3 separate regions of the Homo sapiens genome follow, and regions 2 and 3 are each linked to region 1. Evidence: fine-mapped expression QTL. A gene starts in region 1. Each other region holds a variant in brackets. All regions are shown on one strand. Distances are from middle to middle.

What was found. PIP is the estimated chance that this variant, and not a neighbour inherited with it, causes the effect.
Region 2: its variant is fine-mapped to the expression of GFPT1 in monocytes after interferon gamma (Fairfax 2014, PIP 0.95).
Region 3: its variant is fine-mapped to the expression of GFPT1 in whole blood (TOPMed, PIP above 0.99). The same link has a PIP of 0.9 or more in blood mononuclear cells, fibroblasts, lung, nasal epithelium, sun-exposed skin and thyroid.

Annotation. Positions count from the first base shown.
Region 1 is chr2:69,383,776-69,391,959 of GRCh38, forward strand. GFPT1 (glutamine--fructose-6-phosphate transaminase 1) reads right to left here and starts at 3,452. Exons shown (of 20, transcript NM_001244710.2): 1 at 3,290-3,452. The coding sequence starts at 3,296. RefSeq lists silencers at 3,032-3,701, 3,762-3,871 and enhancers at 3,244-3,803, 8,051-8,184.
Region 2 is chr2:69,445,725-69,453,908 of GRCh38, forward strand. LOC124906020 (a long non-coding RNA gene) reads left to right here and starts at 3,775. Exons shown (of 3, transcript XR_007086829.1): 1 at 3,775-3,833; 2 at 7,897-7,984. The variant G/A (reference allele first, on the strand shown) is at 3,202.
Region 3 is chr2:69,321,653-69,329,836 of GRCh38, forward strand. GFPT1 (glutamine--fructose-6-phosphate transaminase 1) reads right to left here. Exons shown (of 20, transcript NM_001244710.2): 16 at 8,032-8,146; 17 at 7,645-7,772; 18 at 6,619-6,786; 19 at 5,262-5,423; 20 at 1-4,581. The coding sequence ends at 4,537. Among named protein-coding and RNA genes, the nearest start is that of GFPT1, 61 kb to the right of the region's middle. The variant G/T (reference allele first, on the strand shown) is at 3,667.

The sequences.
Region 1 (8,184 bases):
CCACTACGCCCGGCTAATTTTTTTGGATTTTTAGTAGAGACAGGGTTTCACCATGTTGGTCAGGCTGGTCTCAAACTCCTGACCTCAGGTGATCCACCCACCTCAGCCTCCCAAAGTGCTGGGATTGCAGGCGTGAGCCACCGCGCCCATCCCCAAAATTCCATTTTATATACACCGTCGAATCAGAAGGGTATAACTTCACATTTATAAAAACAATAGCAAAATCTGTTAAAAGCTAGGGATAGCTTAAGTGACTTGACACTCAGCAAAACCAAAAATAATGCAAATAAAAAGGACAAAGTATATTCCAAACTACCAAGAAAAAGGAAGATAAAATAAATTTGGAAAATAGACACACTATTCTTCTCTGGGAGATTCTCAATGCTTATTATTAATACATTAAAGATTCCAAGAAATCCTCCAATCAAAAAACAAAACAAAACATTACCACGCGATTTAATATGTTGCTTCCCAAATTTACTGGACCAGAGGATCTTTTTTCCTAACACTTATTAACATCCCAATACAAGCTGGTAAACATATCAATTTTATCAGTATATCTGATTGAAAAAAAGCACATCAGAATCTTCAATCCTCATTCTTCTGCTTCAACAATGCACAACGTTGAAATAAAATAATCTTTTAGGCAAATTTAACTAGGGCCGGGTAAGGTGGCTCACTCCTGTAATCCCAGCACTTTGGGAGGCTGTGGTAGGTGGATTACCTGAGGTCAGCAGACCAGTCTGGTCAACATGGTGAAACCCCACCTCTACCAAAAATGCAAAAATTAGCCAGGTGTGGTGGTACACCCCTGTAATCCCAGCTACTCGGGAGGTTGAACCCCGGAGACAGAGGCTGCAGTGAGCCAAGATCATGCCGCTGCACTCCAGCCTGGGCGACAGAGAGAGGCCCCGTCACAAAAAAAAAAAAAAAAAAAGAAAAAAGAAAGAAAGAAAAGAAAGAAGAGAAAGAAAGAAAGAGAGAGAAAGAAGAAAGAAAGAAAAAGAAAGAAAGAAAGAAAAGAAAAGAAAGAAGGAAAGAAAGAGAAAAACTTAACTAGATAGCAAGTAATCAGAAAGTAAGCTTCCAGATTTTCCCATCTAGTCTAATTTTCACTCCATTTCTCTGCTCAGGAATTTTAGTTCAATGACTAAGATGTGGGAGGAAAATAATGACACTCATCTTCTTATCTTTCAGAATTTACATTAGAGAGAAAATAAATTCTGAACCCTATCCCTAGAATCAGGCAAAACCGTGGTATGACTTAAAAGCAGGACCTCAGAAATGCCTCAAATATTCACTTTTTATTTCTTCAATACCTGTTTCCTCAGCCGTAAAACTCTATGGAATGGAGACACAAACTATGTGAAAACTCCCAACATTTAGTCTCCACCCTAAAGGTATCTCCCTTATCTGAACCTGATTTCCATATCTGATTTATTTATTTATATTTATTTATCATTTTTGAGATGGAGTTTTGCTCTTTTTTACCCAGGCTGGATTACAATGGCGCGATCCCGGCTCACTGCAACCTCCACCTCCTGGGTTCAAGCAATTCTCCTGCCTCAGCCTCCCGAGTAGCTGGGATTACAGGCGCGTACCACCACGCCCAGCTAATTTTGTATTTTTAGTAGACATGGAGTTTCACCACGTTGGCCAGGCTAGTCTTGAACTCCTGAGCTCAGGTGATCCACCTGCCTCGGCCTCCCAAAGTGCTGAGATTATAGGCGGGAGCCACCACGCCCAGCGCTGATTTATTTATTTATTTATTTTTTTTTCAGTAAGTACTTTGACTACGTTTTTTTCTTGGAACATGATGAAATGACCTGCAACCAGAATGTTGAGTACTTGATGAGGCACACCCCTCATCATTCAGGAACAGTTAACTACCAAATGAAGCACACTGGAGATTGACCAGTTTGCAAATTCACTACTTCACAGCTCCAAACTAAATGCAAAACCATTCTACTAAGTAGACACTGCAAAAGTCTGATTCTGAAGTCAGCTCTACTCTAATAATTTCAGTAAGCTATTTATAGGTGTTTCTGTTTTTATGTGGGTTTTTTTTTAATCTACTCTAAATTTAAACCTGCTCCTCATTTTCAGAAGCTGAAATGAGCATAAAGTTAAATACAGGAAATATATACACTAACGAGTACAATCCACCTCCTGTTCAGTTCCTTCGTGTAAAAGGCTGCAAATAAGAAGTCTCCCAGAGAGTTTTCAATTCTCTTACAATGGTACTTCCCTTTAAAAAAAAAAAAAAAAAGTGTACTTTCTTCCAGGGATAAAGTCGGTTGTAAATTTCAATAAGAAAGGTAAGAATACAATTATTTTTACTGGCAATAGCCAAATTAACACCAATTTTAGAAGATATCAGTCATGTCAGACACGATTCTCAAAGTCTCTTTCACTAACACTTAGGTCATAATAAACGACTCTCAAAACATGGAATAAAAGGGCCTAACCTTAATTTTTTAAGGCTCTAGGAAAGATATTTGCTCAACTTTCCATAGCTAGTATTTTTAATGGATGCACATGCAAGGGATAAATGATATTTTTCATAGTTGGTATTCTAAAGGGGTATACATCCAAGGTATAACTGATATTTTTCAGAGCTGGCATTTTTAATGGGTGCACACGCAAATGATAAATTATGTATAACCTATCGCCACAGACATTTGAAGGCCTCTTCCACCAGAGGATCAGGTCTAAGCCCATGAACCAAGTTATTGATTAGCAATGGTTTCTGTTGAGACAAGGGATGGCAGGAAGTATCACGTTTAATGGCACTACCGTGGCTCTAGCTAGGGTCTGTTTTCTATTGGGCCTCCCCAGAAACAAGTAAAATATTTTTTTAAAGATTTTTAGAAAAATGCAAGGTAAGTTCAAGAGACCTCGCCCGAGGTTCCACAGGTTTCCTCACTCACCTGGTGGGCCCTTTTGAAGGCAACCCCCTCCACACCTCAATTCCCTCAGCTCTCTCCTCCTTTTTCAATAAAGGCGTTTCTCTCCCCTTTCGGTTCCTTCTCCGCGCCAAGGCGCCCGCTAGCCCCCGGCAAAGGGGGCCCGCCTTCCTCTCAGGTGCCTTTCTCCCGGCCGCCACCCCCTCTCCCGCCCGTGGATGCCGGCCCCCGCCCCCGCAGCCACCACTGGGCGCCCCTTGCCCATCACCCAGACTTCGCACCCTCCACACTCCCGCTTCCGCCCGTCGCCTTGGGCCTTAGCGGCACCCGCACCGCACCCCAGCGCCACCCGGCAACACGCCCCCCGCTCCCGGCCCCCTTACCACACATGATGCCGGAGACACGGCCCGCGAGGCCAGGGGCGAGTGGCTGGCGGGATCGGGGGTGCACACACGAGCTTCGGTGGGCAATCTGCGGGCTCGGGGGCCGGGGTGGCGCCGACACGACTCCCTCGGGGATGCGACGGCCAAGGCAACGACAGCCTTCTCCGCCTCCCGGGCTCCGCCAGCAACCGCCGCCGGGCCCCGCCCCTCGGCGCGCAGCGCGCCGCCGCCCGTAGGCTCCATTGAACCGCTCACGCGCCGCTCACGCGCAAGTCCCGCCTCCCAGCGCTGCCCCGCCCCCCGAGCCCACGCAGGCGCTGGACTGCTGGCGGCGGCGACGTGGCAGTGGCTCGTGGCCGCGTCCGCCTGGAGTTCCTGGAGACGCCCGCCCCGGGGCGAGCCGCGGGAGGGACCGAGCCGAGAGGGAGGGAGAAACTCAGCACCTGGCAGGGAATGACGGAAAGAGAAGGATGGAATTGTTAGCAAAGCAATAGCCCGGGTGCGTGCCCCGTGCAGCCCCAGGCCCCAGGCGCCAGCACTGCACGAAGCGAGGAAAGAGGAGGAAAAAAGCAGGAAGTATGAAAAGGGAATCCTGGGGAACATAAGGCTGAAAAAAATTGCAAAGAATTAGGTTGAGGTGGGAGGAGAGAGATAACAAAATTCTTGACTGTAAAGCCCCAAAGGTCAGCCTCTCTGGTAATAAGCAATTCAATTCCTTGTGTAATATGCTTGGCCCCTAAAAGCCCTCCGCATCCGTTGCCTCCATAACCCTCAGTTTATTGTGGAGGGGTAGAGGAGGAATGTAAGGCTCAACTATCCGACTATGAGCCTGGACGTAAGAAACTGCTGGCCCACCTCCTCCCATGACCCACCTGAGACGGCTAGGAATTCCCTAGCTTTAACAGCCGCGCGTTTGACTTACGAACGATTCATTCTATGAATTAATGCGCCATGTCTGACAAGAGAGACTTGATTAGAGAGGGATGATGTTTCTGAGAATTTATTACCTGGGCATTTGCTTTAAACAGCCTTAAATGGTATCTTTAGTCAAATGTGGAGTAATCAGAACTCTATAATGGCTCTAGAGTAGAGTAGTATCAAAAACGTACATGGCACACAGAATTCCTGGAGTGCTGACTGCTGTTCATGTGTCTGGTCTTAGCCTGCTGACTGCTGTTCATGTGTCTGGTCTTAGCCGTCCTTCCAGCCCTATACACTCCCAACAGGCTCAACAGGTAGTTCCTCAACTGGGCCAAGATTCTCAAATCTTTTGCACACTTTGGTTACTCTGCATAGAATCCCCACCACGTCTCTGTTTAGATGCTACCTCTTCAGGAAAGCCTTTTTTATCCCCCCTAGACAGACTTGGAGACATGCATTAACCTCTTACTCTTTGAGCTACTCACTGTAAAGAAATATTCTTTGATATTTTATGATTTTCTGTATTTTCCCACTGGGCTGTAAGTTTCTTGAAGCTAGAACTAGATTTTACATACCCAACACTTTTAGACCACAGCACAAAGTAAAAGATCAAATTTATTTTGGAATGAGTGAAAAAAAGTCCTATTTTCTTAGCGGAATTAACCTTCTATGGCTGGTTATATGATTAAGTGAGCATAAGGCTTTCAGTTCTTCTTACGGGGAAAAGTGCCTTTTTTCACTTGCCTCAGAGAAGCTGAAAAATGTCACATTTAACTAAGCAGAGTATTTCTCACCTAAAAGCCCTTTTGATATTTCAATCCCTTAAACAGGTCCCTGGATCACCCAGAGCAAAGTTTAAAAAAAAAAAAAACAGTGAGCTTTTTGGTAATAATACATTTCTTAATTCAAGAAACAAAAGACTGTGGATATACATCTAGCCTCAGAACCCTCATCTAAGGCTCTGGTTAGAACTCCGTTGTATTACCTAAAAGCCAAGGTATGGTTCCAATGCTTAAGCAACATCTTTGTGCACTGGCAGCAAACCTGTCAATGCCACAAAGAAAATGTCAGCAGTACTACCAGAGTTCTCATGCTCCAACTATAGTAATCTATTTAACCCTTTGCTTTCTTCTTCTGCCTGCTACTCCACCACAATGACTATCAATTTGTCTTATCCATCTCCACTCAACAAACTATTTTGGAAGATATTTATGAATCAGTTGAGAAGAAGAAACTAGTGTTACAGGTCTTTTAGAATTTGTCTAAATACAAATTTTTAAAAGTTTTCAGTAAAGACTGGAAAGTCCCCAACTCAGAAAAAAAAAAAAAAGTTAAAAAAAAAGTAAATAAAAAAATAATTTGACAAAAAAGAGAAGAAACTTTGAAGGACAGTATTTTCCCAAATCAGCCTTGAAGAACCTCACTAACCCAACACAACAAAGAACTCTTTGTAACCATGCGCCAGTTAAGATACACACTTTGGGTGCCTGACCTCCCTTTATACAGAGCTCCGCCTTAACTGGACCTTTGGGAATAAGGCCTGAAGGAGAAGAAAATAAATGATCTATGAAGGGAAGGGGACATCTGGGTCTAATTCAAACAAATGAGGGAATGGATTTTCTCTCCTGATCAAAACATTCTGAACGACAACAAAAAAAGTAATGATGGCAAGGGGGTGTCATTCACCATCTCTTTATGTAAGTCCATTTCCCTGTTCGTAGATTCAGTCCCATTGGATCTGATGGCTGAAGGCCATCAGAGCTTCCAGTTGCCATTACTAACGCAACGAAGAACCTTAATTGAAATAGCTGTAGTCATTTTTATTAACCCTTATGTGAATTCCAGTAATAGCAATAAAATTATTAAAATAAAAATTCCTTTGCATAAGAATATGGGGAGCTGGGGTACATATGTCCTACTTTTTAGGGAGCTTTGTGGAGAAATGTACCCCAGTGGACAGAGAAGATGGTAGCAAGTATCAAAGGAAAAAGAAATAGGTTGAGCCCCTGAGGCCTGTGAAAAGAAATGAGGACAAGAACAAAAGGCACCAATCAAGGCCTCAGAAAGACCCTTTGAGTGAACCCCTTTAGCCTCCCGCAGTTCATCCCACACACTTTGGCTCCAGAGGGACCTGTCAAAAATACAAATGTGATCCAGTTTTTCCTTGCTTCCAATATCGTGGTTACTCTTCACCCACAGGATGAGTACTAGATTTCCCAATTCAGTGGCAGCACTCCCACAGAAAGAGCTTTCACAGAGCTCTTCAAGGATGCAGCTCTCACAAATTTATTTCTCACAGTCATGGTGAAAGATGTGCCTAGAGGGCAGAGCTTTCACTGACAAATAATAAATAGAAGACCACTCAAACTAAAGAAGGGGATTTACTAGCTCACGTAATTGGAAAGAACAGGAATACAAACAGCTTTCAGCACATTTATACCCAGGGACAGAATGTTGTCAGAACTCTTGAACTACCTCTCTGACCTCATGGACAGGGAAATAATCCTCAAATAGCTCTGTAATCACAACTTTATAGCTTGCAGCCCAAAATGAGAGAGGCTATTCCTCCATCCTTACTTTTTATATTCTAGACAAGGATTCTGGCCAGTCCAGCGTGAGTCACATGCCCCACTCCTGTGGCAAAGAAGGCAAGACATTGTGATAGGACAGCTCCACCAAAGCCCTATAGAGTCATATAGCCACATACGGCAAGAGGAAGCAGTTCTTCAAAGGAAAGGGGAAGGTGTTGCTAAAAGAAGAACACCAAGAAGGCACACAAAAAAATATGTCCACCGCATCAAGCAAATATGACCTGATTGCCCCCCAGAAAACCTGAGGCTTGAGGACAAAGGATGCTAACTCCAACTAGAAGCTATGCCCTCCCCAATACTCCTCTCCAACGTGGCTCCAAATTTTTCCAGTAGGCAGAAGCTGGGGCAGAGTTTTCTAGCTCTGCGAGAAAGAAACTCTTTCTACTGCCAAGAAAGTCAACAAATTGAAAACCATGAGATAAACTGGTCCTACCTTTAACCTACTATTTCTGTCCTGTTGGATGTGAACAGAGCCACAATAAGGGGTGGACCATTCAGGGAGCTGCCTAGAACTGAAAGATCACTTGAAACGTAAGGACACAGAAAAAGTACTATTTTTCTAGGGTTTCTTTCAAGGGATACTTGAAAAGTTGCTTCTGTGTATCTTGTAAGCTCCTAGGGAATAATCACAGATAACACTGATATGGCAAAATGGAGTATATGGCTGGGATTTCCCAAGAGGGGTGTAGATTCCCTCTGGACTGGAAAGCAACTAGTTTCATATTCCTGCATAAAAAAATGGACACACATGTACATACCACTGCTTTTGTCTACTGTGGTTCTAGACTCTTGCCCACTCGTAAGTAGCTATGAAAGCAAGGAAAGCTTCTCTCCTCCCTCAAGTAGGAATACTCAAGAGGGGTATGAGCCCAACTTCCTTAAGGCAGAATAGTATAGCTATAATGTGCATAGGCCCTGCAGCCAGAATGCCAGAGTTCATGTTCCTAGCTTTTCCACTCAAGTTGCATGGCAATGGACAATGTACTTTTCCTTGTGCCTCCATCTTCCAGTTTATAAAAATGGGGACAATAGGCCGGGCACAGTGGCTCAAGCCTGTAATCCCAGCACTTTGGGAGGCCAAGGCGGGTGGATCACTTGAGGTCAGGGACCAGCCTGGCCAATATGGTGAAACCCTGTCTCTACCAAAAATACAAAAATAGTCAGGTGTGGTGGCGCATGCCTGTAATTCCAGAAGAATTGCTTGAACTTGGGAGGAGGAGGTTGCAGTGAGCTGAGATGGTGCCACTGCACTCCAGCCTGGACGACAGAGCAAGACTTCGTCTCAAAATAAAAAGGCAGGGGCGGTGGGGGGGGCGGAGGAGGGACAATAGTTAACTATCACGTAGGATTAAATGACTTCATAAATATAAGGTGCTTAGAACA
Region 2 (8,184 bases), 62 kb after region 1:
TTGAGAGATCAGTCAGACACGATCAGCAGGGAGAGCATGTGTGTTTTTATGAAGAATTATGCCAAGGTAGGTAACGGATGGAGAAGAAATTTGAGCTTTGGAGAAGGATACCCGATATCCTTTGGAGAATAAATGTTGAAAGAGCAGGAGGATGTCTTGTTGAGAAGATTCAAAGGAGGGGCTACAAAGTAGAAGGTCATCAATATATTGAATAAGGTGAGCAGCGGAGGGATGGAAAGAAAGTAAATCATGAGAAAGAGCTTGGCTGAAGTAATGAGGGCTGTCCCTGGAGCCTTGTGGCAGTACAGCCCAGGTAAGCTGCTGAGACTGATAGGTGTCAGGATCAGTCTAGGTAAAAGCAAAGAGAGGCTGGGACAAGGGGTGCAGGGGAATAGTGAAAAAAGCATCTTTAAGATCAAGAATAGAATAGAGAGTTGTGGAGGAAGGTATTGAGGACAAAAGAGTGTAAGGGTTGGGCACTACAGGGTGGATAGGCAAAACAATTTGGTTGATAAAGTGTGCATCCTGAACTAACCTGTAAGGCTTGTCCGGTTTTTGGACAGGTAAAATGGGGGAATTGTAAGGAGAGTTTATAGGCTTTAAAAGGCCATGCTGTAACAGGCAAGTGATAACAGGCTTTAATCCTTTTAAAGTGTGCTATGGGATGGGATATTGGCGTTGAGCGGGGTAAGGGTGATTAGGTTTTAATGGGATGGTAAGGGCTTGAGATCGGTTGCCATGGAGGGAGTAGAGGTATCCTATAATTGTGGGTTAAGGTGGGGAGATACGAAAGGAAGACACGAAGGAGGCTTTGAACTGGGGGAAAAGGCAGCAATGAGGTGTGGCTGTAGCCTAGGAATAGTCAGGGAAGCAGATAATTTAGTTAAAATGTCTCAGCCTAATAAGGGAACTGGGCAGGTGGGGATAACTAAAAAAGAGTGCATAAAAGAATGTTGTCCAAGTTGGCACCAGAGTTGGGGAGTTTAAGAGGTTTAGAAGCCTGGCCATCAATACCCACAACAGTTATGGGGGCAAGGGAAATAGGCCCATGAAAAGAAGGTAATGTGGAGTGGGTAGCCTCCGTGTTGATTAAGAAGGGGACGGGCTTACCTTCCACTGTGAGAGTTACCCGAAGCTTGGCATCCATGATGGTCTAGGGGGCTTCCAAGGTGATTGGGCAGCATCAGTCTTCAGCCGCTAAGCCAAGAAGATCCGGGAAGGAGTCAGAGAGCCTTGGGCCAGAGTTCCAGGGGCTCTGGGAGTGGCTGCCAGGTGAGTTGAAGAGTCCGATTTTCAGTGGGGTCCCACACAGATGGGACATGGCTAAGGAGGAATAACGGGCTGTGGGCATTCCTTGGCCCAGTGGCCAGATTTCCAGCACTTGTAGCAAGCTCCTGGGGGAGGAGGTCCTGGAGGAACACGTGGCTGCTGCGGTTCAGGCGTTTTGAAGTTTTTGTGTGCTGGAGATGTGGCTGGGGTTTCCCTCACAGTGGAGGCAAGGAATTGCAACTCAGAAATACATTGCTACTTGGCTGCCTCTACTCTATTATTGTACACCTTGAAGGTGAGGTTAATTAAGTCCTGTTTTGGGGTTTGAGGGCCGGAATTTAATTCTTGGAGCTTTATTTCTAATGACAGGAGCTGACTGGGTGATAAAATGCATATTTAGAATGAAACAGCCTTCTGACCCTTCAGTGTCTAGGGCTGTAAAGAGTCTAAGGGTTGCTGCCAAACAGGCCATGAACTGGGCTGGGTTTTTATATTTGATGAAAAAGAGCCTAAACACTAACCGATTTGGGAAAGGTCAGATAAAGGAAAGGAGCATTAACCTTGACTATGCCTTTAGCTCCAGCCACCTTTCTAAGAGGAAATTTCTGGGCAGGTTGGGGAGGGCTAGTTGCAGAACAAAACTGTAAGCTGGACTGGGTGTGAGGAGAGGAGGTGATAAAAGGATTACAGGGTGGGGGAGTGGAGGCTGAGGAAGAATTGGGACCTAGCTCAGCCTGGCGAGGAGCAGCCTGGGGAGGAGGGGAGAGGTCAGATGGGTCTGTAGAAAAGGAAGATTGGAAAGACTCATTGACGCTTGGGGTTAGGACTGAGGGGACAGGCGGGAGGGAAAGAAGCAAGATTTGGGACGAGTTGCATTAGAAACAGAGACTAGGGAGGGACCGATGTGTAAAAGAATGCCTGGATATCAGGCACCTCAGACCGTTTGCCCATTTTATGACAAGAATTATTTAGATCTTGTAGGATGGAAAAATCGAAAGTGCTGTTTTCTGGTTATTTGGAACCACTGTCAAGTTTGTATTGGGGTCAAGCGGTGTTGCAGAAGAAAATAAGGCATTTAGGTTTTAGGTCAGGTGTGAGTTGAAGAGGTTTGAAGTTCTTGAGAACACAGGCTAAGGGAGAAGAAGGAGGAATGGAGTGTGGAAGGTTGCCTATAGTGAAGGAGGCAAGTCCAGAGAAAAGAGAGGATAGGGACATGGAGAGAAGGGGTGGGGGGCGCTTGCCCTTAGGAAAGCAGAAAAGGGGTGGGAGGTGCTTGCCCCCCAGGAAAGTGGAAAAGGGGTAGAGACAGAGAGAGAAGGAGTGGGGGGGTGCTTGCCCCCCAGAAAAGTGGAAAAGGGGTAAAGACACGGAGAGAAGAGGTGGGGGATGCTTGCCCTCCAGGAAAGTGGAAAAGGGATAGAGACATGGAGAGAAGGGGTGGGGGGGTGCTTGCCCCCCAGAAAAGCAGTGCTTGCCGCTAAGGCTGAAGGACCAAGGCAGGCATCCCTGTGTGGTCAGACACCTCTGAAATGTGGGTGAATAATCAAGCAGGCAACCCCACATGATTAAACACCAAGGGAAGACTGTCTTCCCGAGTCCGTGACCAGCGCCGGAGTTTTGGGTTCACGGATAAAACGCATCTCCTGTCTCTACCAGAAAAGGAGAGGAACTGAAATTAAGAGAAGGGAGAGACCAAAGTGTGATTGAAGGAACTGAAATTAAGAGAAGGGAAAGACTGAAGGAGAAAGAGGTTGAGGGATAGTGAGAGAGGTTGGAGAAGAGAGTAAAAAGAGGCCGCTTACCCGATTTAAAATTGGTGAGATGTTCTGTGGGCTGGTTGGTCTGAGGACCTGAGGTCATAAGTGGATCCTTCTCACAGAGCAAAGAGCAGGAGGACATGGGATTTATCTCCCAAGGGAGATCCCCCGATCC[G/A]AGTCACAGCACCAAATTTCATTCGCGTCCGTGTGAAGAGACCACCAAACGGGTTTTGTGTGAGCAACAAGGCTGTTTATTTCACCTGGGTGCAGGCGGGCTGAGTCTGAAAAGAGAGTCAGCAAAGGGAGATGGGGTGGGACCATTTTATAGGATTTGGGAAGGTAAAGGAAAATTACAGTCAAAGGGGGTTGTTCTCTGGCTGGCAGGGGTGGGGGACACAAGGTGCTCAGTGGGAAAGCTTTTGAGCCAGGATGAGCCAGGAGAAGGAATTTCACAAGGTAATGTCATCAGTTAAGGCAGGAACAGGCCATTTTCACTTCTTTTGTGATTCTTCAGTTACTTCAGGCCATCTGGATGTATACATGCAGGTCATAGGGGATATGATGGCTTAGCTTGGGCTCCGAGGCCTGACACCTGTTATTAGATTCTAGCCTTATTCATTGTTTTTGAGTTTTTATTATTTGCCTATAATTTGGACTGGATTCAGACTTATTTCCTGGCTGCAAGTCTCCAAACTAACATTTTCAACTTTTTCTTCCATTTTCTTGATTTGGAATTGTTACTGGAAAGGGGTCCCGATCCAGACCCTAAGACAGAGTTCTTGGATCTTGCGTACGAAAGAATCCAGGGTGAGTCCGTAAAGTGAAGCAAGTTTATTAAGAAAGTAGAGGAATAAGGGGGGAGGGATAGCATTAGGCAATATACCTAATGCTAAATGACGGGTTAATGGGTGCAGCACACCAACATGGCACATGTATACATATGTAACAAACCTGCACGTTGTGCACATGTACCCTAAAACTTAAAGTATGATAATAATAATATAATAAAATAAAAAAAAGAAGTAGAGGAATAAAAGAATGGCTACTTCATAGACAGAGCAGCCCCAAGGGCTGCTGGTTGTCAATTTTATAGTTATTTATTGATGATATGCTAAACAAGGGGTGGATTCTTCATGCCTCTCCTTTTTAGACTATATAGGGTAACTTCCTGACATTGCCATGGTATTTGTAAACTGTCATGGTGCTGGCGGAAGTGTAGCAGAGAGGATGACCAGAGGTCTCTCTTGTCGCCATCTCGGTTTTGGTGGGTTTTGGCCGGCTTCTTTACTGCAAGTTGTTTTATCAGCAAGGTCTTTATGACCTGTATCTTGTGCTGAGATCCTATCTCATCCTGTGACTTAGAATGCCTGGGAATGCAGCCCAGTAGGTCTCAGCCTTATTTTACCCAGCCCCTACTCACGATGGAGTTGCTCTGGTTCACATGCCTCTGATGAATCATGAGAAATTAAAACTATGCTTTTCTTAAAGCTCTACAAGCAGAAGCCAGAGAACTTAAACTTTGGGAGAAATAACAGCAATTTATATATAAACAATCTTTGTGCCTATTGAATATGAACTATGCAAAGGGTTCACTTAAACACCTGATTCAAGTCACAATCCAGGAAAATCCGTCAGATTGCCACTGCAATCTGAAGATGCTTCAGAGACTCTAGAAAAACTAGTCTATAGACTGCTTCAGACATTATAATGTGTCAATGTACAACTAAAAGAGTTAGGGAGATGATTGCCCAAAGAATTGCCTTAATTGAGGAGACAATTACGTAGCCTGAATCAGGTTCCAGGATTACTTTCCCTTTGTTGCTGTTATTTGGCATTGCTTCTTTAGTTTCTCCCCCATCTCCGTAGGACATGACCCCCTAGGAATGAGGCTTCCTAGCGACTTGGAATCAGATGAAACTTACAACCACAAACTCGTGTCTTCTACAGGGTTTTTTCTCTGAAAGATTTTGAAGAACGAGGACATGTGACAGAAAATTTAAAAAATTTCAGGACTTCCACTCCTTATTCCAAAGAGGCTGAGTTATGCAACCCCCTCTTGCAAATGAATAGCTGTCACTAGCATTATGCGTTAGCCAGACCCGCATGGAAAGGTAAAAGGCCTCAGGCATCTCCGAATAACTTCCCCATAGATCATGCATAAGTAAATTCTTTGCCAGCCTCCCATAAACAAGGACATGCCAGTTGTAACTTTAGGTTTCCAGTGTATCTCGCTCCTAAAACTAAAGTCTGTTCCATTCCACACTGATAATGTTGATTACAAGCTTATCTTCCCAGGTGTAGAACAAAGACAAATGAGATCAGTCATTCCTCCAGCTACCCAAAGATGTTTGCATAATTGATTCTTCCTTTAATCCCTTTTTTCTTCAGACATTCATCTTATCTTATGTAAAAATGTAGATTTACTGGGCACTAACTAAAGTCTCCTAAGAATGTAACCATTCACCTTTACACCTACCTGCCCATCTTCCTACGTGCCTTCCTCCCCTTTAAGGAAAAGTATACATACTAAACCTCCTGAAAACCTCTTTGGAAAAACAGCCACAGATACATCTGTGGCTCACGTTTTTTTCCCTGACACTCCCTGAAGCTGGCTTAATAAACCTCAATTGACTGAGATACTTGCCTCAGTCACTCATTCTGGTTATCTTTCCCAACATGGATGTCAGCAGTGACATTAACTACTAGTTCTGCCCCTTACTCTATGGCATCACTTGACTGTAAGCACCATATAGGCATGCCACCTTTATCTTCTTGATTTTATTCCTAGTGCCTGGCATTTAAGACATACTCAAGATATACTTGCTAAATTGAAACCTCTCTGAAGTTCTGTAGAACTAATCATCTTCTAATAAATATATTTTATTTCATTATTATGCTAATTATTTTTCCATCAGTTTCCCCTGTCTAGAATGTATGCCCCACAAAGGTAGAGATATTTGCTTATATTGATAACTGATGTATCTCATATGCCTAGAACAGCACCTGTCATTCAGTAAGTGCTCCATAAATACTTCTTGAGGCCCGGCGTGGTGGCTTACACCTGTAATCCCAGCACTTTGGGAGGCCGAGGAGGGTGGATCACGAGGTCAGGAGATCGAGACCATCCTGGCTAACATGGTGAAACCCTGTCTCTACTAAAAATACAAAAAATTAGCCAGGCGTGGTGGCACACACCTGTCGTCCCAGCTACTCAGGAGGCTGAAGCAGGAGAATGCTTGAACCCGGGAGGCAGAGGTTGCAGTGAGCAGAGATCGTGTTACTGCACTCCAGCCTGAGCGACAGAGCAAGACTCCGTCTCACAAAAACAAACAAAAAAAACTTGTTGAATGGATGAGCCTAACTTTCCTAATCTGTAAAATGCAGGGAACAATACCTACTGAAAATGGTTGAGTGATTAGAGAAAATGCATTCAAAGTGCCTTGAACTGAGCTTGTCACATAGGTAGTTACAACGATGCTGTTGCTTTATTCTCCTATAACACTTTTAGACCCGTTCCTGATGTTCTACAAGGAGTGACACCTGAGGTCAGCCGACTAATCTGTGTTATTCCTAGAAATGAGATGGATTTGAGTATTTCTGCTGGACTGATGTGGCAGATGAAACAAAGAAATATTTACCTGAGGTATGGTGAACGCTTCTGGGAAAGAATTCATCCTGGGGAAGAATTCCTGTCTTGAGGAAAGAGTCAATTCATATGTTTGATCCAAGGTCAAGCAGCCCAGATACTCAGACTGTCTTCTGGACCAGCCCCCATGAACTCTGCCTCAGGCTCAGGGAGAGTGTTTGAAATAAAGGAAAAGAAGGAAGTTGTTTCATTAAAACATCTAAGACTGTGTGAGCCCTGAGCCCAGGGTCCTGCTGCTTTCTAGCCAGTGAAAGGAGAGGGGCATGCTGTACCCCAGTGGAACCTGTGGAGCACAGTTAACTACTGATTGGATGTCAGGGTCTGAAGCAGGTTGCACCAGCCCGCATCTGGACAGGCGAAGTAGGAAGACATTACACCATAGGTGCCTTGGCCTTGTTAAATAAAATTATGGGAGGTCATTGTTTTGGACTGAGCTCCTGCACTAGGCCCCAACAGACCAGACCAAACTAAAATGGAGTCACTCACGCTAAATGCCATGTAATCAAACTGAAACTTGTAGGAGGCAGATAGACCTCAAAACAGACCTGTTTCTTTTTTTCTCCTGAAAACAGGAGATTCCAGCATGACAAGGAAGTCCTCCTATGCTGTAACTCTTACAAAAAAGTAACCTGATGTTACCCAATCAGCTTTCTTTCTATTGTTCTGTTTCTTTGTTCCCACCTTACAAAACCCACTGTTCTGCCAGGCACAGTGGCTCACGCCTGTAATCCCAACACTTTGGGAGGCTGAGGTGGGTGGATCACTAGGTCAGGAGATCAAGACTATCCTGGTTAACACGGTGAAACCCTGTCTCTACTAAAAATACAAAAAATTAGCCGGGCGTGGTGGCGGGCGCCTGTAGTCCCAGCTACTCAGGAGGCTGAGGCAGGAGAATGGCGTGAACCCGGGAGGCGGAGCTTGCAATGAGCCGAGATCTCGCCGCTGCACTCCATCCAGCCTGGGTGACAGAGCGAGACTCTATCTCAAAAAAACAAAACAAAACCCACTGTTCTATTATTTCTCAGTGAAATTTGAGACCAAATAACTCCATGTATGATGGTGACAGAATGATATCAATGCCTAAAGTTTTGGTTAATCTCTCAGATTGAGAGGTTGTTCAAAAGGGGGAAATTGTTATGTTTGGCCTAAAGCTGCCCCCTTGCATATTTTAAGTTAGGTTTCTCTAGACACAGTGAACTGTAACCCAACTTGATTTCTTAACAGACTCTTCTAACAAGCAGTCTCAGCCAGTCACAGGAGCCAAACTTCAGTCAACCACAGGCAGTCAAATGTTCAAACCAGGTCAAATAAGGTAAATCCCCAGCTGTCACCAATTGAGCTGTTTCTGTACCTCACTTTTATTTTCTATAGATTACTTTCCTTTTTCTGTCCATAAATCGTATCTAACCATGTGACAGTCCTGGAGTCGCTCTGAACCTACTCTGGTTCTGGGGGCTGCCTGATTTGTGAATCATTCGTTGCTCAATTAAGCTCTGTTAAATTTAATTTGTC
Region 3 (8,184 bases), 62 kb before region 1:
GATGATCCTAAAATTTCCACTTCTCAAGAAGTGTAATTTAAACAAATACCAAAAGCTTTATTTAAGCAAAAACACATTCAACCACAGAACATTCAGAAAGCTAACAGGATCATTTCTACATTCATTCTGCAAACAGTGTAGTAAGAAAGGTAATTTGAGAATTTCCAAAGATGTTCTCGCTAGCCATTATTTATGGTAATTACATAACATTTTGATGTCAAGTTATTACAGACTTAAAAGTTAATATAGCATAATTTTACAATCGTACTTTCACTATGATTTTTATTTTAACCCTGGATATTATTGGTTTGAAGCTAATATTATCAGTCCTATTGGCTGTCACTGTCACAGATCTGAAGATATGTTTAAATTCATCAAGCTAGGAAGATATCAAAATATTAACAATCTTCAAGTATAGTGAGAAAAAAACTGATTTAAGTGTTAGCATTTCTAAACTTGAGACTCTAACAGTAAAAATAAAGTAATCTGAAACCTGTTTCCATGGGTAAAACACTCTGCCTGGTATTCTTGTACACAAAATTTACTAAATATGTGAATATCATAAAATGAAAATATCACTCCCTTCAATTTCTTTGGCCTTCACAAATTCAATGTGACTATGATCCTTTTCAATAATACTTTCAATGACATTGTGCTTCTTTAGAAAAATCACTTAAGTTGTAGCATACAATAGTTAACATTAGTTCTTTTATTGCTATGGTATATGCTAATTTTTTTAAAAGGGGAAAAAAAAACCCAGAGAACTTATTAAAATGTTTGTTAAAGCAAACATTTCAGTTGGTTTCCTTTCTTTGAAGAATAATAGAAATAAATGTCAGAGGAGTATTACTAAGGAGCCAAAACAAACAAACAAACAAAAAAACAAAAAACTCCTTTATTACTCCCATCCTCAGAACTAACTCAAGACAAGAGATCTGTATTCAAAAAGATAAAACAATCTCATCTCAGTAACTACCTCCTATGAAACCTAAGAGAGAAAACCTGTAATAGCTCTCTTAACCAACAGCCCCATCTGCACATCACCAAGCACCAGTTCCCTTTGGGTAGCAGTAATGCTTGTTTTTCATCTTTGCATATTAAGGACTGTTGTTAACAGATTTATGGGTCATTTGTAGCTTACTTTGCAAATACCTTTCACTTCTTATGAAACACAATATGCCCCCAAACATGGACCATTATTCAAGTAGACAAAATCACTCACTGACAGCACTTTAACAACCCGCCTCCACTTCATCTTCCCATTCTCTCACCCTATGCCTTCCAATGAACCTAGTCTTTGCTAGTGATGAGTCCATCTGGGGACAAATACTGCTTTAAAGATGATGTAATTTTCAATGCCAACCACAGTGACTTTCCCATAATAGGTATTAATAAACACTTGTTGACATAGTTATAATAAGCTAAAAATAGTTAACATTAATTTTTCTCTTTATCTTTTATTCTTATGGCACAGAATTTATTTTAAAAGACTGAAAAACTGATTCCAATGTAATAATCACTTACTGGGCCACACGCTAGATGACAGACATGCCTCCCTGCCTAAAAAGGGCTCAAAGGAACTCTCAGTTATACATGAGTGAATTAAAACTTTAAATGTACTACAAGAAAGAACTTTTTATATGAAGGATTCTTTATGTAGAGTATCTTTTTTGAAAAATCAGATTTTCTTATCCTATATTACACTGGTTTTAATTGGGCATGCTCACTTTAGTGGTGTGCCTCATTACAATGTCTCTTTTGTGTTAAGAATTAACTTACAAAAGCATTTAAAAATCACTACATCAAATGGGATAGAGAGTAAGAAGACAGGAGAGAGAGGAGAAACCATGTTTTTTGTTTTGAGTCAGGAGGGTCTCACTCTGTCACTCAAGCTGAAGCACAGTGGCACAATCACAGCTCACTGCAGCCTCAACCTCCCAGGCTCAAGCGATCCTACTACTTAAGCCTCCCAAGTTGCTGAGACTACAGGCACAAGCCACCATGCCCAGCCCATTTAAAAAAAAAATTTTTTTTTTTTTTTTTTGAGAGAGTCTTGCTCTGTCGCCAGGCTGGAGTGTAGTGGCGTGATCTCGCCTCACTGCAACCTCCGCCTCCTGGGTTCAAGCGATTCTCCTGCCTCAGCCTCCCAAGTAGTTGGGACTACAGGCGCACGCCACCACTCCCAGCTAATTTTTGTATTTTTAGTAAAGACGGGGTTTCACCATGTTGGCCAGGATGGTCTCGATCTCTTGACCTCATGATCAACCTGCCTCGGCCTCCCAAAGTGCTGGGATTACAGGTGTGAGCCACTGCGTCCGGCCAAAAAAATTTTTGTAAAGACCAGGTCTCACCATGTTGCCCAGGCTGTTCTCCAACTCTTGAGCTCAAGCAATACTCCCACCTCAGACTCCCAAAGTGGAGGCTGGTATTACAGGCTGAGCCACTGCACCCGGCAGAGAATCCATGTTTGTTTGGAAAATATCACTTCTTTGTTCTTGATTTTGGTTTTTGATATTCAGTTTAGAACTTACCCTAGCTTTCAGTATATTTGTGTGTGTGTGTGTACACATGTGCTTTATAGAAAGACACACACAGAGGGAGACAGAGATTATGCAGACTAATGACTGACTTCACATATTAGTTTTAACTTAGAATGCTGAATCATACTTTAAACTATAAGAAATGCTACAAACCCACACAAATTGTGTTTGTAAAACGTTAATATACAAAACATAAGAAATGACACTATACACACGCTAGCTGACTTACACAAAATAATCTTAGAAACAATTAAAGTAGATTAATATAGCTATAATAGCCATATATTATATATAATGTAAATAGTGACCCTATTTTATTCTTAAAAAGATCAGGTTTCTAGTCACCATGTATGAAAGTCCTTCCAAATTACCTCAAAATATAACAAATCTTTCTCTAACCCTAAGACACAAGCAGAATTCTATGCTTCTCTGGCAACAACAATAACTATTAGAAAATCTTAACCTCACCCAGAAGTTAAAACAAGAAAAGAAAGAAAAGAAAGGAAAAAACAGCTTACTTAAATAATTGTGCTAAATAGCTTATCTTCACAATTTAAAAGTAAAAACCTTTGAAAAAGAAGGACTTCACCAAAAACAAACACACTCTCCTATAGCCCTGAAGATCTGGCCAGAAAAGCTCCATTAAGAAATTATTACTCACAATTTTGGGGGTATCAAATAATAACATTCTACTTTAAATATTTTAATCCAAATTGTCAACTTCCATTTCTGACACTTACAAGCTGAACATACCCCAATATCACTTTATTTATATCTTCTTTATTCCTAAATATATTTCAGGGGTAGAGCACAGAAAATACAGAAGAGGAAAAATACTTAGGATACAATACTAAATTTGGTGCCTATCAGTGTAAAGCATACATACCTTTTTCTGAGCTTAGCCTACCACATATACTTAGAGTGAAATGATGAGGTCAGCGACCTGCAAATCTTCCAAACAATTGCAAGTAACTTCCAAACTGGCACTAAGGGACTAGTTTTATGCAACAATGTAATGAAGGAAAGTTAAAATTAACTACAGGAAATTCTTCCTCGTGACAAAGTTGAAGAGAATACTGAATATATCAATATTAATTTAATAGCAGCTCTGTGTTGTGATTTTAAA[G/T]AACAAGATAAAATATGTCATTCAGCAGTCATTTAAAAAATAAAAGACTACAGATACAAGGAAATAAAAACCACTTTTAGGAGATGAAAACACAAAGTAGTAGGATACCCAACATGTACACATCCCATCTTCAAATTTAAAATCATATTGTCAGTTGTCCAAAGCAGCTTGAATTTAAAGTTTGTGCTATAAAATTGTGCAAATATGTTAAGGATTGAGACCCACCAATGCACTACTGTAATATTTCGCTTCCTAAATTTCTTCCACCTACAGATAATAGACAACAAGTCTGAGAAACTAAGGCTAACCAAACTTAGATATAAATCCTACCAATAAAATTTTTCAGTTTTAAGTTTTACAGTTTGATTTAAAAACAAAACAGAAACAAATTTCAAAATAAATCACATCTTCTCTTAAAACTTGGCAAACCCTTCCCTAACTGTCCAAGTATGAGCATACACTGCCACTGGCTTTAGATACTCCAATTAAATGCACTACTCTTTCACTGGTCTGAATGAAGTATGGTGAAACAAGTACCAATTTTTAGAAACATATTGTCTTCTCAGATTGAAGTGGAGGGTCCAGAAATGCAACACCCAGCATTCTTTAAAGAAAATAATAGCTAGAATCTTTCTGATACAGATTCCAATATAGATTCCATTATTCAAAGTCCTCCACAAATTACTGGGAAAATGTAAGAGGTAACTTCACAAAAATCACATATTGAGTGGAATAATTATAACTGATATATAAATAAGGATTTACTAAAAAAAGGCTTCAAGGGGTGATATTTTAAATCAAGGTTTTAAATACAAAAGGTGTCTTGTGTTGCTTAATCATACAGTTTCGTACATTTTGTATAGATATTCCTCACTCTACAGTCACAGATTTGGCAAGATTCCGTGGGAAATCAACCTGCAAAAAGAAAAAAAAAAAAAGCAAGATTTGAGAGATTATATAGACTGGGGAAGGGGGTGGTTACTATAAGCAAATTATTTTTGTTTATAAAAACAGAAAACAATACATTCATTAACCATCTTTATTACAGACTACAAAGAATTAGATTAGAAAATATAATCACATAATGTGTCCTGAAAAAAACTGAAATTGGTTAGGAAAAAGCATTCTAAAGGTGCCAGTTCACACAGAAAGAGCTACTGTGGTCCTCTACAGAAGTAGTAGCCCTCATAGGGGACACTAAAAACAAAAGCACTATGTTTTGGTTGCCACAATGGCTGAGAAACCAGGAATGCTACAAAGTCTTCAATGTGTGGGACAGTTCCAAACAAAAAAGAATTGTCCTGCCAAATGCCAATAGCTGCCCTGTTAAGAGATAGAGGTTATATTAAGAAAACAGGTGGAGACTACCCAAGGTGAGTCACAATCTTGGAGGTGAACCCCAAGGTTCCTTCAAGTTCTATGGGTAAGAAGATGTTGTGATGTAACCTACAAATTGGGCCATGAAAATATAACAGGTGACAGATATATATTTGATAGATTTCTCAAACACTATTGTTAAAAATTTAGGAGAAAAAAATCAGAATGTATCCAGGTAAAAAACCATCCCAAGATTTCTGCAGTGGTAGATGACTTACATCATAGCCTCTCAGCACAGCAAGGTGGAAAGCCAGCAACTGTAAAGGGATCACGCTGAGAATGCCCTGCAAGCAGTCCACTGAGTGGGGCACCTTGATCGTTCTTTTTGTGTTCTTAATGGTCTCAGTATCCTCCTTATCACAAATTACCACAGGCCGCCCCTAGGAAAGAAAATCACACACATACACAACATCACTGGTGGGCAAAGGCAGGGCTATAGCTTACGAATGTGCAAAAATTGCACTGCATAATCCATATGAAGCCTCACGGACAGACTTCTTTAAATTCCTGTGTAGTAAATCTGATTGTTATTACTTATAGTCGAGGAAACAGAAGCGTTATGGGATCCAGTAATTTGTTTAAACTCATGCAACTAAGAAATACCAGGCTTAGTACTTGACTGCAGGTTTGCCTAACTTCAAAGCTCAAGTTCATTACCACCACATTGTGCTTAGGGAATAATATCTTTTGGAATTTATATATAAAGCCAACTGATCTGAAGAAAACTCAATTATATAATATTAAAATAAAACCTAGATGTTAGATTTCCCCTGAAATATATCGCGTGTGTGTAATTTTTTTTAATTTATTTTATTTACTGTTTTAGAGACAGGGTCTCACTATGCTACCCAGGCTGTATTCAAACTCCTGGACTCAAGTGATCCTCCTGCCTCAGTCCCCAGAGTAGCTGGGACTACAGTCATGTGCCACTGCAACCAGCTGAAATATATATTTAAAAATATTTTAAAATACATTTTTAAATGTTTTAGAAGTATTAAATTAAAAAGGAACAGCATATGTTAACTAAAAGAAGACAGGATGTGGAGACCAAGACCTCAGTTCTGGTCTTGGTTCTGCCCAATATGAGATCTATGACCTTGGTCTTCTTAAAGCTCTAAGTATCTGGGCCAGGCGGGGTGGCTCATGCCTGTAATCCCAGAACTTTGGGGGGTTGAGGCAGGTGGATCACTTCAGGTCAGGAGTTCGACACCAGCCTGGCCAACATGAAACCCCATCTCTACCAAAAATACAAAATTAGCCAGGCGTGGTGGAGTGTGCCTGTAATCCCAGCTACTTGGGAGGCTGAGGCAGGAAAATTGCCTGAACCCAGGAGGCAGAGGTTGCAGTGAGCCAAGATTGTGCCACTGCACTCCAGGGTGGGTGACAGAGACTCCATCTCAAAAAAAAAAAAAAAAAAAAACTCTTAAGTATCTGATTCCTCACATGTAAACCTCAAAGGCTGTATTCCAAAGTAAATGAGTTAACACGTGTAAACATGTTTTGTAAGTCATTCAAATAAGCTAGCGTAACTCCCCTCTTTGATCCCCAAGGTGTTCTCACAGTCCCCCGACTTACCTGCCGAGCAACCACTTGCTGAAGAGCATTCTGACACTTGGCATAAGTGTGATCTCTCATGATGATCATGATCACAGGCATCAATTTATCCACCAAAGCCAGAGGGCCATGTTTCAATTCACCAGCAAGGATGCCTTCAGAGTGCATATAAGTAATTTCTTTGATTTTCTAATAGGAAAGAACCAGATTTGTCTTCAATCCACTTTTCAAAAATCCATGTTTAAGTAAATATTATAAAAAGCATCTGATATGTCAAGCCACTGTCTATCTATCCAAAAGTATTAAAGGACCACTGATCTATAAATATATCTAACAAGTTAATAGATCACTATTTCTATATTATCAACATGTAATTGGAAGTTTTAAAGCTCCACAAGGACTTTTTAAAGATTTTAGATTATCACAAACATATTCATATTTCTGGTTAACCCTTTTTTTTTTTTTTTTTAAGACAGAGTCTTCTTCGATCGCCCAGGCTGGAGTACAGTGGTGTGATCTCGGCTCACTGCCACCTCCACCTCCTAGGTTCAAGTGATCTTCCCGCCTTAGCCTCCCAAGTAGCTGGGATTATAGTCATGCATTACCACATCCAGCTAATGTTTTTGTATTATTAGTAGAGATGGGGTTTCACCACGTTGGCCAGGCTGGTCTCGAACTTCTGACTTCAAGTTTGATCTACCTGCCATGTCCTCCCAAAGTGCTGGGATTATAGACGTGAGCCACTGTGCCCAGCTTGACCTCAATTAAATTTCTTATCTAGAGAACTTAATCTTTATTCATATTTGAACAAATTAACCCAAGTTACTTGCTAAATCCAAGTTTATCATGTTAAAATGTACTCTTTTTGATTTTCACTTCTGAACAGAGTTCTCTGTTGCACTTTCTCAAAGTAAACAAACCACAATGCATAAATACAGAAGCACTTTCAAAAGTTCTACCTATTTCATTCATTTAATGTAAAAGTATGACTATGTGTCAGGTCTGCAGGTCAATGGACTGATACTAATTAGAACTGAGAAAACTTACCAGTGCCCCTTCAAGACAAGTAGCATAATGATAGCCTCGTCCCATTATCAGAACTGACTTCTGATGATAAAGTTCTGTTGCTAGTTTCTGAATTTCGTCATCCATGCTCAGTACTTCCTTAATCAAATCTAAGAAGTAATATTAGCAAAAAAGGACAATAAACCAAACAAATAAAATAACAATATATTGGCAGCAAATAACAAAAGACCAGTGTTTCTATTCCTCTGTGCTATCAATCAGTATGGGTATTTTTTTAATACATCGGAGCAAACGTAGAAAGATCTTATTGACTAAATAGCTACAAGCCACAGCTTCAAGGATAAGAGAATTTTACCTATTACCCACTCCCTTAGACAACAAAAGTGTAATATATGAGTGTCTTTGTACCAGGCAGCCGTTTCAATCCAAGCATGATCTCTTTGCGTCTTTCTTGCATGGAGATCCGATCATCACACATCATAAGGGCAAACATCACAAGGGATACAAACTGGCTGGTATAAGCCTGAAACATCACAAAAAAGCAGGACAATTAGTTGCAGC